2 separate regions of the Homo sapiens genome follow, and region 2 is linked to region 1. A link means that fine-mapping ties the variant in region 1 to the expression of a gene that starts in the linked region. Tissue or cell type: whole blood. Region 1 holds a variant in brackets; the other region holds the start of a gene. All regions are shown on one strand. Distances are from middle to middle.

Region 1 (8,114 bases):
CTGTAGTGCTGTGGCAGAAGGTTATTCACATAAGGTGAGTGGCTGCAGCCCATTTATACTTAGGCCACTTTGGTCATAGTGGATGACCAGGAAGAATCAGGGAAGAATCAGGGAAGAATCAGGAACCAAGAGGTAGGCATTGAGGGATAGGCTCAGGCCCCAATAAAATATCAGAAGAGGAACCAGGGACTTTGACACCACAAAACCCATACTATAAATACTGCAACAATTACCTGTTTCCAAACATCATTTCACCACATACACCTCTGTCCCAACTTATCAACATTAAAAGGGAAGAACTTCACTGAACCTCCTAATAAAGCAAGTCTTGATCCATTGTTCACAGTGACATATCTGGTAACTTAGTCCCTTTTTCTTATACGCATCCAAGGACAACATTTTGGCCTGGGACACTCACTCACAAAAGCATATCTCATTTTTTAAAATTGTCTGCATAAATGTGTAATGTTGTGTGTCATTTTTACTTTATAGGCCAAGCTATAACATCAGAAATGGTGAATGAATACAAGAAAATTCTTTTGCTGAAAGGATTTGAGCTCATGGATGATTATCATTTTACATCAATTAAGTCCTTACTGGCCTATGATTTAGGACTAACTACAAAAATGCAAGAGGAATACAACAGAATTAAGATTACAGATTTGATGGAAAAAAAGTTCCAAGGCGTTGCCTGTCTAGACAAACTAATAGAACTTGCCAAAGATATGCCATCACTTAAAAACCTTGTTAACAATCTTCGAAAAGAGAAGTCAAAAGGTAATAGAGAAAACCTTGCACATAGCTACTCTGCCTTGAGTCTCCCCAGTCTTCAGTAGAACCCCACCTTGGTCATAGCTGGTACATCCCTTTTCCAATTTATAACTCAGCAGTCATGGGGATGTTGGCACCTCAGAGACTGACCAGTTGGCAATTTAGAACATTCTGTTTCATATGAAAGAGATTGATATATTTAGAAGAATGTATTTGAGGTAAGGATAAAAAACCAAAGACAGGGATTTATGAGACGGTGAGTGTTTCAGTAAATCAAAAATGTCAGAAAATGAAAAAAAAAGCTACTTTAAAAAATGTGTTTTATTTGAAATATTTATATTTAACCAATTTATGCAGCAATAGTTCTATTAAGAGACGTGTAGAATTTTTCCACTTAATAAATCACTGTTCTTTTTTTAATTCAAAAGCCAATATTAGCACTTTGCCACATTACAATTCAGATCATATTTCCTTTCAGGTCATATTTCTGTCATTTGAACAGATATTGCACAGAACATGACCAGCCTGTCAGCATCATGAAAGCCTTAGATATTTAAAAGAAATGGTAGGAGAACAAGACTGAGAAAGGGTTGATTGAGGCACATGGAGTTCACAGGAAAGGAAGCATGTTCTCACTGCAAAGGGGAGGAGTGAGTAAAGCACTGAGGAGAATGAGACAGTGCCTATGCCTACCATGCTGCTGTTGGCCTCCTAGGAGCCAGGCTGGGTTAATGCAGTAGAGGTAACAGGCAAATCCGAACTCTCATGCAGGAGCTGACAGCAGGTAATATTGAAACTGCCTCAGCTGTCTTAGATAAGCTATTCCACTCTAGGCCTATTGTGCCCTTTTTCTTTTCTTTTGTCAGTTGCTAAGAAAATTAAAACACAAGAAAAAGCTCCAGTGAAAAAAATAAACCAGGAAGAAGTGGGTCTTGCGGCACCTGCACCCACCGCAAGAAACAAACTGACATCGGAAGCAAGAGGGAGGATTCCTGTAGCTCAGGTAAGCTTGAGAAAGAGGAGCAGGACTGAAGCCTCACAGAAGATACTCTGCTATGGCACGTGGCTCTTTACTAATATCTCAACACAGCTTAGATTTACCAAATTAGTAATTATGGATCTTCTTTGTGATGAGTAAAGAGTTAGGTATCGTAAAAATGTAATAAAAAATTTCTGTGACATAAATATATTATCATCTCCATTATAAAAATGGGGTAATAATCATATTGGATATACATCTTGCCCATCCTTACACAAATCTAGATTTTCTCATTCCAAGTCCAGTGCTCTTCTCATCACACCACAGTGGTGATAACAGTAATGCATCTGTTGAAATCATCCATCTCCTTTTTAGTGCAACAATCTATGCCCAATATTATCTATTGTCCATATCTTCAAGTGACAGATTGTAATTCCCTGGGGTTTCCAAGGACATCCCATCCAACATAAATAGAACTTACTATGTTGTAATGAAAAAATGAAAACTTGCTCTGCTTCTTTTGATACTAAACTCCATTAACAGGAAAATTAAACTACTTTCAGAAAAGAAAAACTCCAAACAAAGAAAAGACTGAAGCCAAAAGGAATAAGGTGTCCCAAGAGCAGAGTAAGCCCCCAGGTCCCTCAGGAGCCAGCACATCTGCAGCTGTGGATCATCCCCCACTACCCCAGACCTCATCATCAACTCCATCCAACACTTCGTTTACTCCGGTACACTCTTCCTGGTCCTCTTCTCCATTTTTTTTTAACCCAGTCACAGTGCATTCCACTGTTACTATTGTTACTCTCATGCATAACTCTTCATATTACTGATTTGCTGTGGGAAAACTGTTTTCCATATTATGATAACTTGTTTACATTGGTGAGAAGCCACATGCAAGTAAAGTCCAATTACCTACAGGTAATCACTGTGTGTAAAACACCAGGACAGACCACTAAGCATTTCTGGTCTGTGCAGGTAAGTAGCCTGGCTCCTAGTACCAGTACATACAAGCCCATGGCTCATCTTTGCTCCCCACACTTCCTATTACAGATCTGCCAACGTTCTCTTCAGAAAAGTATTCTGCTGCAACTCAAATAGGCCAGGACACTGTGGAGAGAGGACATACGAGATAAACAAACTTGTCCTTTTTCCATTGTTGTTAGCATTTTAGCCACTGTGAAATGCTGTGTATACACAGTCGAGGACATAGCTCTAACCAGAAATCCTCTACCTGAGACTACTTACATGCTAGCCAGGCCAAGTCTTTCCACTTGTAAAAGCACTGTTTCTTGGGAAGAAACAAACGAGTTTGGCCCTCAAAATGGCAGAGTACACTAGTGATCATTAGAATTTCTAATGAATGTTTGATCATTAGAACATCTAATGATGTTTGAGGCTTCTGGTGGGCATGGTTCTTCATTTTTAATGCTGTCCAAGTTGTTTTCACTTTGTTGATTGTCTTTGATAATTTCAGTAGGTAGAGGAGATATTTGGATTTGTTATTATATTCTAATCTTTCTTTAAAGTTTCTTCACAACAATGTTTTCATCATCTGCTACTCTAGATTGTTCATGCAGAAGATCATGCTTTGCTTCAGGAAGATTATTCTGAGTCAATGAGGGTGATTTAATTTCCAAGCCTGTTGTCTGTTACCTTAGGCTTTCAGTAGCTAAACTTTACCAGCTCATGTGCCTTTCCTTTCTGTTCAGTAATCCCTGTCTAGCCTAGCCCCCAGCTCCAAATATCTGTGAAAGTTGTTGGGTCGAAAGCTCTGCAGAGTCACTCGTGCAGAGTGACTTTGTATTCCTGCTCAAAGTTTTTGTT[GTTGT/G]TTGTTTGTTTGTTTGTTTGTTTGTTTGTTTTTGAGACGGAGTCTCGCTCTATCGCCCAGGCTGGAGTGCAGTGGTGCGATCTGGTCTCACTGCAAGCTCCGCCTCCCAGGTTCATGCCATTCTGCTGCCTCAGCCTCCCGAGTAGCTGGGACTACAGACGCCCGCTACAACGCCCGGCTAGTTTTTTTTGTATTTTTAGTAGAGATGGGGGTTTCACCATGTTAGCCAGGATGGTCTCGATCTTCTGACCTCGTGATCCACCCGCCTCGGCTTCCCAAAGTGCTAGGATTACAGGCGTGAGCCACCGCGCCCGGCCTCCTGCTCAAAGTTTTAAGTTTATTTTCTTGTGTCTGCCCAACACAGAATCAGGAAACCCAGGCCCAACGGCAGGTGGATGCAAGAAGAAATGTTCCCCAAAACGACCCAGTGACAGTGGTGGTACTGAAAGCAACAGCGCCATTTAAATACGAGTCCCCAGAAAATGGGAAAAGCACAATGTTTCATGCTACAGTGGCCAGTAAGACTCAATATTTCCATGTGAAAGTCTTCGACATCAACTTGAAAGAGAAATTTGTAAGGAAGAAGGTCATTACCATATCTGATTACTCTGAATGTAAAGGAGTAATGGAAATAAAGGAAGCATCATCTGTGTCTGACTTTAATCAAAATTTTGAGGTCCCAAACAGAATTATCGAAATAGCAAATAAAACTCCCAAGATCAGTCAACTTTACAAGCAAGCATCTGGAACAATGGTGTATGGGTTGTTTATGTTACAAAAGGTAAACCCTTAATTTTGTTTTAATTTTCTCTACCATTACCTGGAAATAAATGTCTTAATTTGCCAGACTTACTGTCTGAATATTGGAACACAAGAATTTATATTGACTAGAGATAGTGATGAAGTTGTCCCACAAAATAGGAAATAGGACTAAGTGACCTATTAACTTTCTTACGCCAAAATAAATGTAGGGACTTTGAAAAAAAGTTAGTAAGAAATATTGGCAGTAATGATCTGTTGTCAGCCACAATGAACTAGGACAATACAGGGTCCAAATCAACGGGAGCAAGCTAATAACATCATCTCTTTCAGCTCCATCCCAATGAGCACTGATAATTTTACTGTGAGTTTTGATAAATTTATTTTAAGTAATGAATTGTGCTACCAAGGTTGAATTCTGGTTGTGACATAATTTTGGAGTAATAAGTGGATTGGCTGGTATGCTCATAAATGCAAATACATTCAACAGCTATCCATACAATCTAAACATTTGTGCTTAGATCAGTTGCCCTTCTATCTTATTTATTTATTCATTTATTTATGAAGATAGCATTGAACAACTGAGAAATATTGAATTCCATGATACTTAAAGGATAAGGCAATCTCTTCATACTATTTACAAAAAAAAAATAATTCCAAGGCACAGAGTTTTATTGATATGTCCATGTCCAAATTCAAGATGCTAGTTAGGATAATGCATTCCATCCCTTTCTCCACTCTAAAACATTACACATTTCTATGAACTCAACTAACATTTTATATGATTGACTGCTTTATAACCCTACATACATGTCTTTCAATATAGCCCCTTAAATTTACCTCCACATTTTCTCACACTCTCTTTAAGAGATCTTGCTTATAAATGCAATTACAGAATTGATGAGTAATAGCTTAAGTGTGTGAAACACTACAGAGTATGAATGGAGGGAGTTAGGTCAATGGGGACAAGATATTGGAAAAGAATAAGTAATGAGGAAGGCTGAGAAAGAATGAATGATTGTGTTATAGAAGATTTTTCCTTTAAAATTTCTCATAATCTGAAGTAACTCAGGAGTGGAAAACCAAATATTGTATGTTCTCACTTGTAAGGAGGAGCTAAGCTATGAGTACACAAAGGCATACAGAGTGATCTAATAAACTTTCAAGACTCAGAAGCGGGAGGCTGGGAGGGAGGTGAGGGATACAAAACTATATATTGGGTACAATGTACACTACTTGGGTAATGGCTGCCCTAAAATCTCAGAATTCACCGCCATATAATTAATCCATGTAACCCAAAACCATTTGTACCCCAAAAGCTATTGAAATTTTTAAAAATTAAAATAATAATAAAGTGAAATTCCTCATAATCTACTGAATGAATAATTGTAGAAAGCATACATTTGTTTTTCCACAGGACCATGAGCCAAGAAGTTCTATAGGAATTTTTGATTCCTCTATATCTAGGTGCTTTATTTACTCTCAGCTGATCTGAAGGTGGTAGCAGGAGAAAAAGAGGGAAATATTTATTGTTGTATAATTGCAGAAAGAAAAATACCTTAAGCAGGAAAAAAAAATGCTGGATAATAAAAGATGGACCCTGTGAGATGGCAGGCCAAGCCACATGTATGATCTGTACCTGTCATTCCTGTCGTGCATATTGCATTAACTTTGTCATGAGACTCTTTCTCATCTATATGATACTAACAATCCTCTCAGAAACAGGATGTTAATCTTCTTTTGCAGAAAAGCGTACACAAGAAGAACACAATTTATGAAATACAGGATAATACAGGATCCATGGATGTAGTGGGGAGTGGAAAATGGCACAATATCAAGTGTGAGAAAGGAGATAAACTTCGACTCTTCTGCCTTCAACTGAGAACAGTTGACCGCAAGCTGAAACTGGTGTGTGGAAGTCACAGCTTCATCAAGGTGGGAACTGGATAGAGGAGAATGAGTTTGCTAAAGAGGCAAATAATTTTGCTTAGGCTTTGGGAACACCAGGTTCCTCATGTATTACTCAGAGAGTCCAGCGAGTGGAAGGAGAACCTAAACAATGCCCTTGCATTTGTAACTGGAAGATTTTCAGAAGGATATTAAGGTAAAGGCATTCATACAGCTCTAGAAAGGATACAATACTAGTGTTAATTGATTTAAAGATGTGTCTAGCGGCAGGGAACATAGGGCTCAAGAGCAAGGGTTCTGAATAAGACAGATCTGATTTGAATCCTGGATTTAAGAAGCACTAGTTGGCTGATATTGGGGAAACAGTTTCATTGGTCCTCTAAAATAATGGAAGTCTCCACTTCATTGGGATGGTTTAAACATTCAGACAATGTATACATATTAATTATCTCACAACCTGGCACATCATAATAAACTGATCTGTGGTAGATAGTTTTATTTTTAGGAAGGTAAAAATTGGAGGGACTTTTAGGCAAAGGAAATGATACATGAAAATTCCAAAAGTGTGACATAGCGTAATGAGTTCTGTACAACTGAAATTCAGTAGATGCAGAAGACTGTGGGACCCAAAGATTAAAAAAAAGGGACTACTGAGGCCCAAAGATGAAAAAGAAATAGAAGTGTGGCTTTTTCAAAAGTAAATTAATGGAAACTTTATTGTTGAAAATACATGAAAAATTGAAACAAAATTATGCAGAAGAATGCCTGATCACTTTGATATTTTAGCAAAAAATATTCCGGTGTCTATCTATGGAGTTGCATTACAGAGCAATTAGGCTTGGGGCAGAGATATCTATTAGAAGTTGTGTGCTGGATTCACTCATATCCTTACTGAAGAGAGCTTACTGTTGGAAATTCAGGAATTATATGCACTGCTTGCTAAACATGTGGTAGTTTGAAATCAGCCATGTGAAAATATGTATGCCACCAGACTCTGCAAATGTTACAAATCGAAACTTTTAAAAAAAAATGGGTAGTTGGTTAACCAGGATACCACAGAAGTTTATTTCAAAAATCCATTCAGGAAGGAAAAAGACAAACAGAGATTAGTTAATGGGGGGAAAATGAGTTTTTTGAAGGTAGATCTTCATAACTTTGTGACTAACGAGCTTTCATAGGGGATAAGGAGAATAATGTAGCCAATGGGAAGAAAAGATATGGCAGGTGAAAGGAGAACTATAAGCAGAGCTTCATTTCAATATCTAGGGTCTCATTATGTCTTTCTTATCTCTCTTTAAAGGTCATCAAGGCCAAGAAAAACAAGGAAGGACCAATGAATGTTAATTGAAATATGAAAGCTGAAATGCAACAAACAACTTCCGCTTAAAACAATTAAGTTGTTAATAACTGTGATTTTGTAAATTTCAGTAATTCATTTAAATGATGTTTCAGTAGATATATTCTAGCATATTAAGAGCTTTTATAACTGAGTTATAGATTAGTTTGCTTTCTGGAATAAAATTTTCTTCTTATACTCTTCCTTTTTTTTAGATATTACATTTTGCTTTTATGACATTCACGAGGCAAAAAATAAAATATCTTTTTTTGAAGGACATTATTTTCCCAAAGTCTTGTCTACGTTCTGTTAAGATCAATAGTGAGCTGCTTGAGGCTGAGTACTTTGTGCATTGTGAAGCACATTCTAGAGATGGGGAGAGACACATGGGGCCTTATCCACATTGGAGTCTATATTGTGATCTTCAGAGGATAAGTCCGCAGTAAAGGCTGTGACTAAATTTATGTAGCCCATGCTTAAATGAACAAATACTGTGGCCTAGGGAAGTAGCAGATCTAGAGGAAAGGATT
Region 2 (8,114 bases), 74 kb before region 1:
ATGTGGCACCTGATGTTAACAAACTAATATTGTAATACAGAGTATAGAGAAACAACTAACTATTATACAGCTCTTTCATGGAATACTCTATCAATGTAAAAACATGCTATTATTCTCATCTACTAAACAAACAAAAAAGCAAGAGCCTTAAATTCTTTCTCTTTACTCATCCCACAGCCACTGCTCTATTTCTTTCTATGTCCCTAAAAGAAAACTCTTCCAAGAGTCGGCTATACGCATTGCCTTTAATGCCTCTCTTTAAGTTTCTTCTTAAACCCACTCTAATTAGATTTATACTACCACCACTCCATTAAAACCTCCTTTCTCATAGACATTAATTATCTAAGATTTCCTGGATCCAATGGTCATTTCTCATTCCTCAGCTTACTTGGACTATCTGTTTCTTGACAGTATTGATTTATCCAGCCTGTTCACACACTTCCTTGACTTGATTCTCGGGGTACTATACTTTTGGTTACTTTCTATCTTATTAGTCATTCCTTCTCATTCTCCAACTTTAGTTTCTCCTCCATGCCCCATCCTTTTAATGTCACAGTGCCCATGGTCAGTGTTTAATCTTTTTTTTTTCTCTTCTATATAAACTCAACTCCTCTGCTCTATACCATCCAATACCAGAGCTTTAAACACTATAAATGTGTTGAAGACATCTAAATCCATATCTCAGGCGATATTTTTCTCTGCTACTCCAGACTCATATATTTCACTGCCTACTCACATCTCCTCTTGGGAGTCGAAGAGCCATCTCAAACTGAACTCCTGGGGTCTCTACCCCTAGTCTTCCCCATCACAAATGATGGCAATTGCAATCTTTCAACTGACAAGCTAAACTCCTGCAGTCATCCTTGTTTCTATCTTTCTCTCATATATCCAGGAACTGACTATGTTTGACCACCTCGGTCCAAGTCACTTTTATCTCTCCCCTCTTACTGTAATTGACTCCTAACAGATCTCCCTACTTGCATTTGTTCACTTGTAGCCTCATCTCAACACACCAGAGTGATCCTGTTAAATTCTAAATTAGGTTCTGCGTTTCCATCGATCAAATGTGTTCAGTGACATATCATTTAAAACCTTTGCTGTAGCTCTTTCCTTGTTCTAGAATCTCTTTCACCATTTGGATAGCTCTTTCATTTATTTCATCTTTGCTCAAATTTCACCAGCTCAACTACCTGGGCCACCCTATATAACTGCAGTGTGCCTCCATCCTTACATCCATATTCTGTACTGCTATTGCCTTTCTCTACTTAATTTTTAACTTTTTTTCCAGAGGACTTGTCATGTTCTAACCTGTAAAATGTACTTATTTCTTATTCCTATTGTTTATTGGTTCTCTCCTCTTTGATTATAAGTTCCTTAAGGGCAAAGATTTTTTTCTTTTCTATTTTGTTTACTGGTGTATGTCAAGTGCCTAGAGCCATGTCTGAAATATAGTTACAACTCAATAAATATTTATGTAATTAATATGCAAATCTATTAAGATAACTGCTAATTTGCATATGCAGTAGGAGTTACAAGCCATGGGCTGGATATGGAGATAAATCAGGAAAATTTCATAGAACACATAATTTATTATTATTATTATTATTGGAGACAGCATCTCACTCTATCACCCAGCCTGGAGTGCAGTGGCAGGATCTCTGCTCACTGTAGCCTTGACCTCCTGGGCTCAAGCAATCCTCCCACCTCCACCCCACAAGTAGCTGGGACTACAAACGTGCACCACCACGCCTGGCTAATTTTTGTGTTTTTGGTAGAGATGGGGTTTAGCCATATTGCCCAGGCTGGTCTTGAACTCCTGGGCTCAAGTGATCCACCTGCTTTGGCCTCTAAAAGTGCTGGGATTACAGGCATAAGTCACCATGCTTTGCCAGAAGATATAATTTTTATTTGAAGTGAAGAAACTGTCAGAATTTTTTAGATGGAAAAATGAAATAAAAAGTATTTGAAGCAAATGGAACTGCCTGTGCAAAGGCAGAGAGTTATGAAAGACACCGAGTCTTCTCCTTCTGCCCTCCGGTCTTCTTATCACTTCTTCCCTCTCCAGGATCCTGAAATTCATCCAAACTAACTTTGTTTACTCTGATTTTTCTTGGCATTTTTCTAAACCTAGGGAGCATGTCCATCCCATATACAAAAGCCTTTCTCAATCCAAGACTTAATATAGGATGTTTCTCTACTTAGATTCCAGAGAACTACTTCCGGGCCAAACTTTTATATGGGTGATTTTGCTTCAGAATAATTACTTTATTATCCAAAATTTCTTTGTCTTAGTTTTTCTCACCGCATATCCATGTCTATCCACTGCCCAATTCTGCCTTCTGTTTTCTTCAAGTCTTGAATGCATACCTGCCTTCTATAAAGGATTATCCCTAAATTTCTACTTCTTCTCAGACCCTTGTTTTCTAGATGTTCTATATTCCTTCCCTTCTAAATATAAATAAAAGGTTCTATTCTAGAGCTGCCTCTTTCCTTTTCTGGCCTCCAGTCCCACTCACAGATGAGTTGTCTAGACTGTGAGCCCTTAACTAAATTTTCAGATCTACATGGATGGCTGGTCAGAAGATTGAATATGAGAAGCCAGTATTTTGTCGTCTCCTTTCTCAGAAGGTAGAGTTTCCACATAACTCCAAAGACTTATTATCACACTATACATTGTATCATCACTCATTAATGACCTGCTGTTGTTCACTCCCTCCATACTCTGCCTAAGCAATCAAAGTCATCAGGATCCGATCAAGTATTATTATTTTCCACGGAAAACTAGCACCCCCAACTCCCTCATCTTCCAAGTTCACAGTTCTCAGAGGTTTGGACCATTTCCTTCTCTTTTTCACACCCCCTTTAAGATGGCAAAAAATACTGATGATTTTCCCTTTTTAAAAAATTTATTTTATTATTTCTAATTATGATTGTAACTGCTAGTACTGATAAACCTTAATTTAGTGTTGAGAGAAGCTTTAGGAACTATCACTTTCCAGTGGCCCCCATAATTTTGGATTTCACTGGATTGTTGGAATATCTGAAATGTATTATATATTTCCAACAGCTCATAAAAAGAAAAAACCTTTAAATATCACAAAAAGGAAGGCTAAAATAGAAGGATAAATCATGTGTATCAAACTTCATATTTGTACTTATGTTTCTAATTTTGATTCAGCCCAGCAAAAACTCATATCTTCTCACTCATAAAGGAATCCATATCGCCACAAATGGGCATCAACCCTCTGCCTGGATTTACAGCACTGGAAGCTTCCTGACCCATAAGACAGTTCTCTCCATTTTTGAAATGTTTTAGTTTACAACTGTCCTTTCCAATGACCAGAAACCTGGCTTTCACCATTATTCTTTGTTTTGCTCTGTGAAACAACCCTATTGCTCTGGTCCAGAGTCATGTGTTCAAACATTCTTTTCATCACCATTATAGCAATTTCAATGTTTGCCAAGTGGGTTTCTGTATTTAGCCCAGACTCCTTTGTTTGCAGTGTACCCTCACTAAAAATATGCTTTATCTTTTGTCAATCTGAAGACACTTGAATCATTTTCTAGCTCAAGTCTGTCATTTTTTTCCCTGACCATCTAAGTTAAATACTGTTCTTTCACACTTCTAAATTCTCAGTAGTACTTTCTCACTGTCCCTCCAATTATATCCTGTAATGCACTGCAATTATTTTCCAGGCATATGTCTTATCACTCCAAGGCAACTCTCTGTGAGCTTTTTGAAATTAATGAGGAAACTTCATACCATGTCCTACCTCCTAGAGTACTTAGCACAATGCCTGATATATCCGAGTTATGGTGGGTAATGAAAAAGAGGGCAATTGAGATGACTTGTGCAGCTCTTTAGCTCATCAGTTACTCATCTACTCCTATTCCTGATATTGGAATCAGGGCTCTCATAAAACCTACCACATATACAAATTTACATTTATCTTACTTAGGTCCATTGAAATCATAGTTTATTCCCCTAATTCTAGAAAGCTTTTAGAATATATGCCTTGCATTCTTTTCTTCAGATACCACAGCTGCATTATTCATAGTTCATAATTGTTTAGGCATAGGGCCAAAGATCTGGGGGTAAGAAGGGAGATGCAATTTTAGAGATTATCACACTCAACGTCTTCATTTAAAAAACGAAACAAACAAACAAACAACAAAAACTGGGATCCAGAAAGGGGAGAAGACTTGTTCCAGTTTACACAGTTAGTTAAAAATATAGCCAATTTACTAATTTTGAAGCCAGACTCTTCACTATAGCATTTGAAAAGCAGAATATCTGTTTTTAAAAATAGTTTCTGTGTTTCAATTATGTGTTTTATGGACCCTGATTATTCAAAAACCTCTCCATATTTCTGAATCCTCTAGGTCTCTTAGTGATCAGACTAAGAAGGAATGTGAAGATGAAAATGCCTGCTTGATAAAGTCTTACCTAGAGATTGTTGGTGGGGAGTGCTCTGCTAGAGCTTGACTCTGGAAGCCCAGCCACTGCTCGGAGTCCGAAGTTTGAAGAGAACTTCCTGTATACTTCCTATGTCTCATTTGCAGTATTATACCCAGCCATTCCCGGGGCCTGGAGGGGTTGAAGTTTATCACTTTGATGGAACCTGTGGGAATAAGTTAAACCATAAAACAAATTCTTCTCCCATAAAACCTGGATTCTTGATAGGGACCTCATAGAGGCAGAAGCCCATGGGCCTTCTGAGCAGACCTCCTGGGGTCACTAAAGTGCTCTCTCAGGAAGGGAACTGACATACAGCAAGTTCATTAGCCAGTAGTCCTTCATTACCTATTAGTTACTACAACAATAACTACCAGTCCAAGTTGAGATAGAACATGTCTCAAGGCAATTACTTCCTTTAGTAAATAACAATAACTGGTGTGAAAACTAGGTTCAAATGGGTTCCTGTACTGCATGACTTGGGAGTAAGCATACAACTTTCAATTATGATAGGATCTTTATAAAATTTGACTGACCTTCTTTGACCCTGAAAGGGTGAGGACAGGGAGACACTGGGGACATAAATATCATCAAGACCGACTCCTAATCTTGTCTGTTGCTCATATTTATAGCCGTTATATGTTGTCTTACACACTGCAGTCTCCTCTCTACTCTAGTGTTATCTGCTCCGTAAAGAGTGCTGCTTCAGAATCTTGGATACAATCCCAGCCATTCTTCCAAATACTTATGAGACATTAGGCACCTCACTGAGCCATGGTTGGCAATATTGCCAGAAGGGTGGATTTTGAATACTCTTGCCACAAAATAAAAATGATAAGTACTATATGTGAGGTGATAAATATGTTAATTAGCCTAATTTGATCATTCTACTCTGCATACATGTATCAAAACATCACATATATAATTATTTGTCAGATAAAAAATTTAAAAAGTATAAGGAAGATTTACTTTCCTCAGATAAAATTAATAATCAAATGTGATAATGTAAAAAAAAGTACTTACAAACTATAATATGAACTATGAGAAGAATTAAATAATTTTTGTCACTTTCTCCATCCCACCCACACTTTCAATATTCTTCATCAAAGTTTATATTTTTCTATCTCCTAATTTATTTCTGGAAGATTTTTTTTTTTCAAACTGAGTTGCCAGTATTTAATATTTTGTTTGTGGTAAATAGATATTTAACTAATAACTTAATTTTTGAGTCAAAGTATTATTTTGTTTTTTGACTAGTATACGTAGAGTTTAAGTAATAATTTTATTTACTTAATGACTAGAGGTTTATTCAGGTTTTCTAAATCCCTATAAGGCAATTAAGAGTTAAATACCCACTACCTTTTAAATTAAATTTTCCACATCTGTCAGTTTCATTTCAATTACTTCTTTTCTGTGAACTAGAATATCCTCTATTCCTAAAATATATCCATCAATTCTGCTACCCTCCCCTCCAAATGATATTCTGTCTCTATATGTGTTGGGGTAAATGTTTAACAACTGACTCCTCTAACAAAGATTCTCAATTTCATTGAACTCTAGTTCTCTTTTTGACTAAACCTCAGCCTTGGCTTACAAAATCTATAGACTGTCAGCAAAAATGATTTCATCCACCCTCCCCATCTTCCCTCCCCCACCACATGTATTAAAAGACTTAAACAAACACTAACATAGTTTCTAAGAACTCAAGGCCATAGTCTATCCTAGCACCTCTTTAAGTGCCTGCCTGAGAAAATTCAAGGCTACCAAAATAATTTATGTCTATGTGTGTGTATGTGTGTGTGTTTTTGTGTGTGTATATATATTTGTATATTTGTATATTACTGATTAAATCTGTCCTTACCACTTTAGTGCCTGCATTGTTTAGCTTTGAGATAGCCTGCCATTTTTAAAAAGCTCCTGATTTATAACATTTGCTGATTGGCATAGTGCTAATACTCCCACTGTATCTGATTCCAAGCTATTGGTTCCACAGAATTTCTAATAAGTTGTCAATCATTTCCCAAAAACTATGAGCAGACTTCAGCACGTAACTGCCTGTCTTTTTTATGGTATCACATTTCTTGAAACTGCAGCTCCATTGACTTCCTCAGTACTCACTAACCTCTCTCCCTCTTGCAATGTCTTTTACCGCCACTGTTTACAGAAAATGACTGTATATAGCAAAAATAGTAGCAATGTACTGTGTGTTTATTTTACAAAAATATATGATAAAATAGTGCGGATGACAGCAGGGAGGATTTGGAGAAAAGGACATACATATATATGCAAAGGTTCTCTACCTAGTTCATGAACCTGCTGAGATAAAACACACAACAAATCAAGAAAAGCAGATTTGTTACTCATAGACATGCAGCAATGAGAAACAGAAGCCTGGGGTTCATCACAAGCCCATTCCCACAGCTCAGGAAAGCTGCCCAGGCTGAATGAACTCTCACTACACATGCCCCACATTGTACCACAGCGGAGGGACCCAAAAAGCACTAGTCTTTGGAAAACAGTTAGACAGCTAATTATAAACATACATTTATCGTGTGACCTAGCAATCCTATACTTATGCATTTTCCCAAATGACATGAAAATTTATGTTTACGCATAACCATATCATGTTAAAAATGAATATTATCTAGGGATAGCTTACATGCCCACCAAAGTTTGTGAGTGAAAAAAAAAAATACAGATCCAGAAAATTAACCTAGTATGATGCACAGTAGCTAAGCAAGGACTAGTTACCAGTATTATCCAAGGAAATTCAAAAGGCAGATGTGAGACAAGTTGAGGTGGGATGTGCAGAAAACTGGTGAGTACAAATAGGGAAGACCGATGCATTCTATAGAACAGTGGGTTTCAGTAATGATTAGAATCATTATGTCATTGTTAAAGGCCAAATATATTATTGACCAGGTGTGGGTAAAATTCATCACATGTTTCATTCATTACGATTGCATTGAATACTCATCCTATTTAGGTGCTGTGTTAGTTTCTGGACACACAACAAATAAAAAATCTGAAATAATTTGAGACCAAATCTAGTTTATAGATACTTGTAGGAAAGAATGACAAACTATATCTATGTATATATACATAAATGTCCACAAACACATAAATTGCCATACATATTTTGAAGAGAAGCAAAACATACTTCAGAGATAAAAATGAGTGACATAAATTAGACTGAGTGTTCAGAAGTCCTCTCAAAGCTAGCATCACTGGAAATTGATATTTGAACAGAAAATCACACAATTAGGAGGAGTGAACCAAATGAAATGTTGGGGAAAAAACGGAGTGAAGATCCTGAAGCCAGAAAAATCCATAATGTATTTGAAGACCTGAAAGAGTAATCATGTAGCTAGGAAAGAGGGAGCTGAGGGAGTAGAGGTATGAATCTATGTTGAAGAGGAAGGCAGGGAAGAATTCCGTTTATAGCCTTATAAAGTATGGTGAGGCTTTGAATTTTATCTTAAGGGCAATTGAGAATTTCTCATGTTTTTATAAAATGGTATATACAATTCAGATTTCAAATACATTACTTTATATTTTATGTGGAAAATATATTAGAATAGAATGAGAGTAGGAGAAAGGAGCATGGGTAGAATATTATTACATTAATCCAATTGAGAGATGTTGGTAATTTACACCA

Evidence for each region. PIP is the estimated chance that this variant, and not a neighbour inherited with it, causes the effect.
Region 2: it holds the start of OR6N1, and the variant in region 1 is fine-mapped to the expression of OR6N1 in whole blood (INTERVAL, PIP above 0.99).

What each region holds. Positions count from the first base shown.
Region 1 is chr1:158,841,642-158,849,755 of GRCh38, forward strand. It overlaps MNDA (myeloid cell nuclear differentiation antigen), which reads left to right. Exons shown (of 7, transcript NM_002432.3): 2 at 493-777; 3 at 1,638-1,774; 4 at 2,314-2,481; 5 at 3,946-4,362; 6 at 6,087-6,275; 7 at 7,549-7,861. The coding sequence starts at 513. The coding sequence ends at 7,596. Among named protein-coding and RNA genes, the nearest start is that of MNDA, 14 kb to the left of the region's middle. The variant GTTGT/G (reference allele first, on the strand shown) is at 3,578.
Region 2 is chr1:158,767,574-158,775,687 of GRCh38, forward strand. OR6N1 (olfactory receptor family 6 subfamily N member 1) reads right to left here and starts at 4,622. Exons shown (of 2, transcript NM_001005185.2): 1 at 4,448-4,622. It overlaps OR6N2 (olfactory receptor family 6 subfamily N member 2), which reads right to left. Exons shown (of 2, transcript NM_001005278.2): 2 at 6,649-8,114.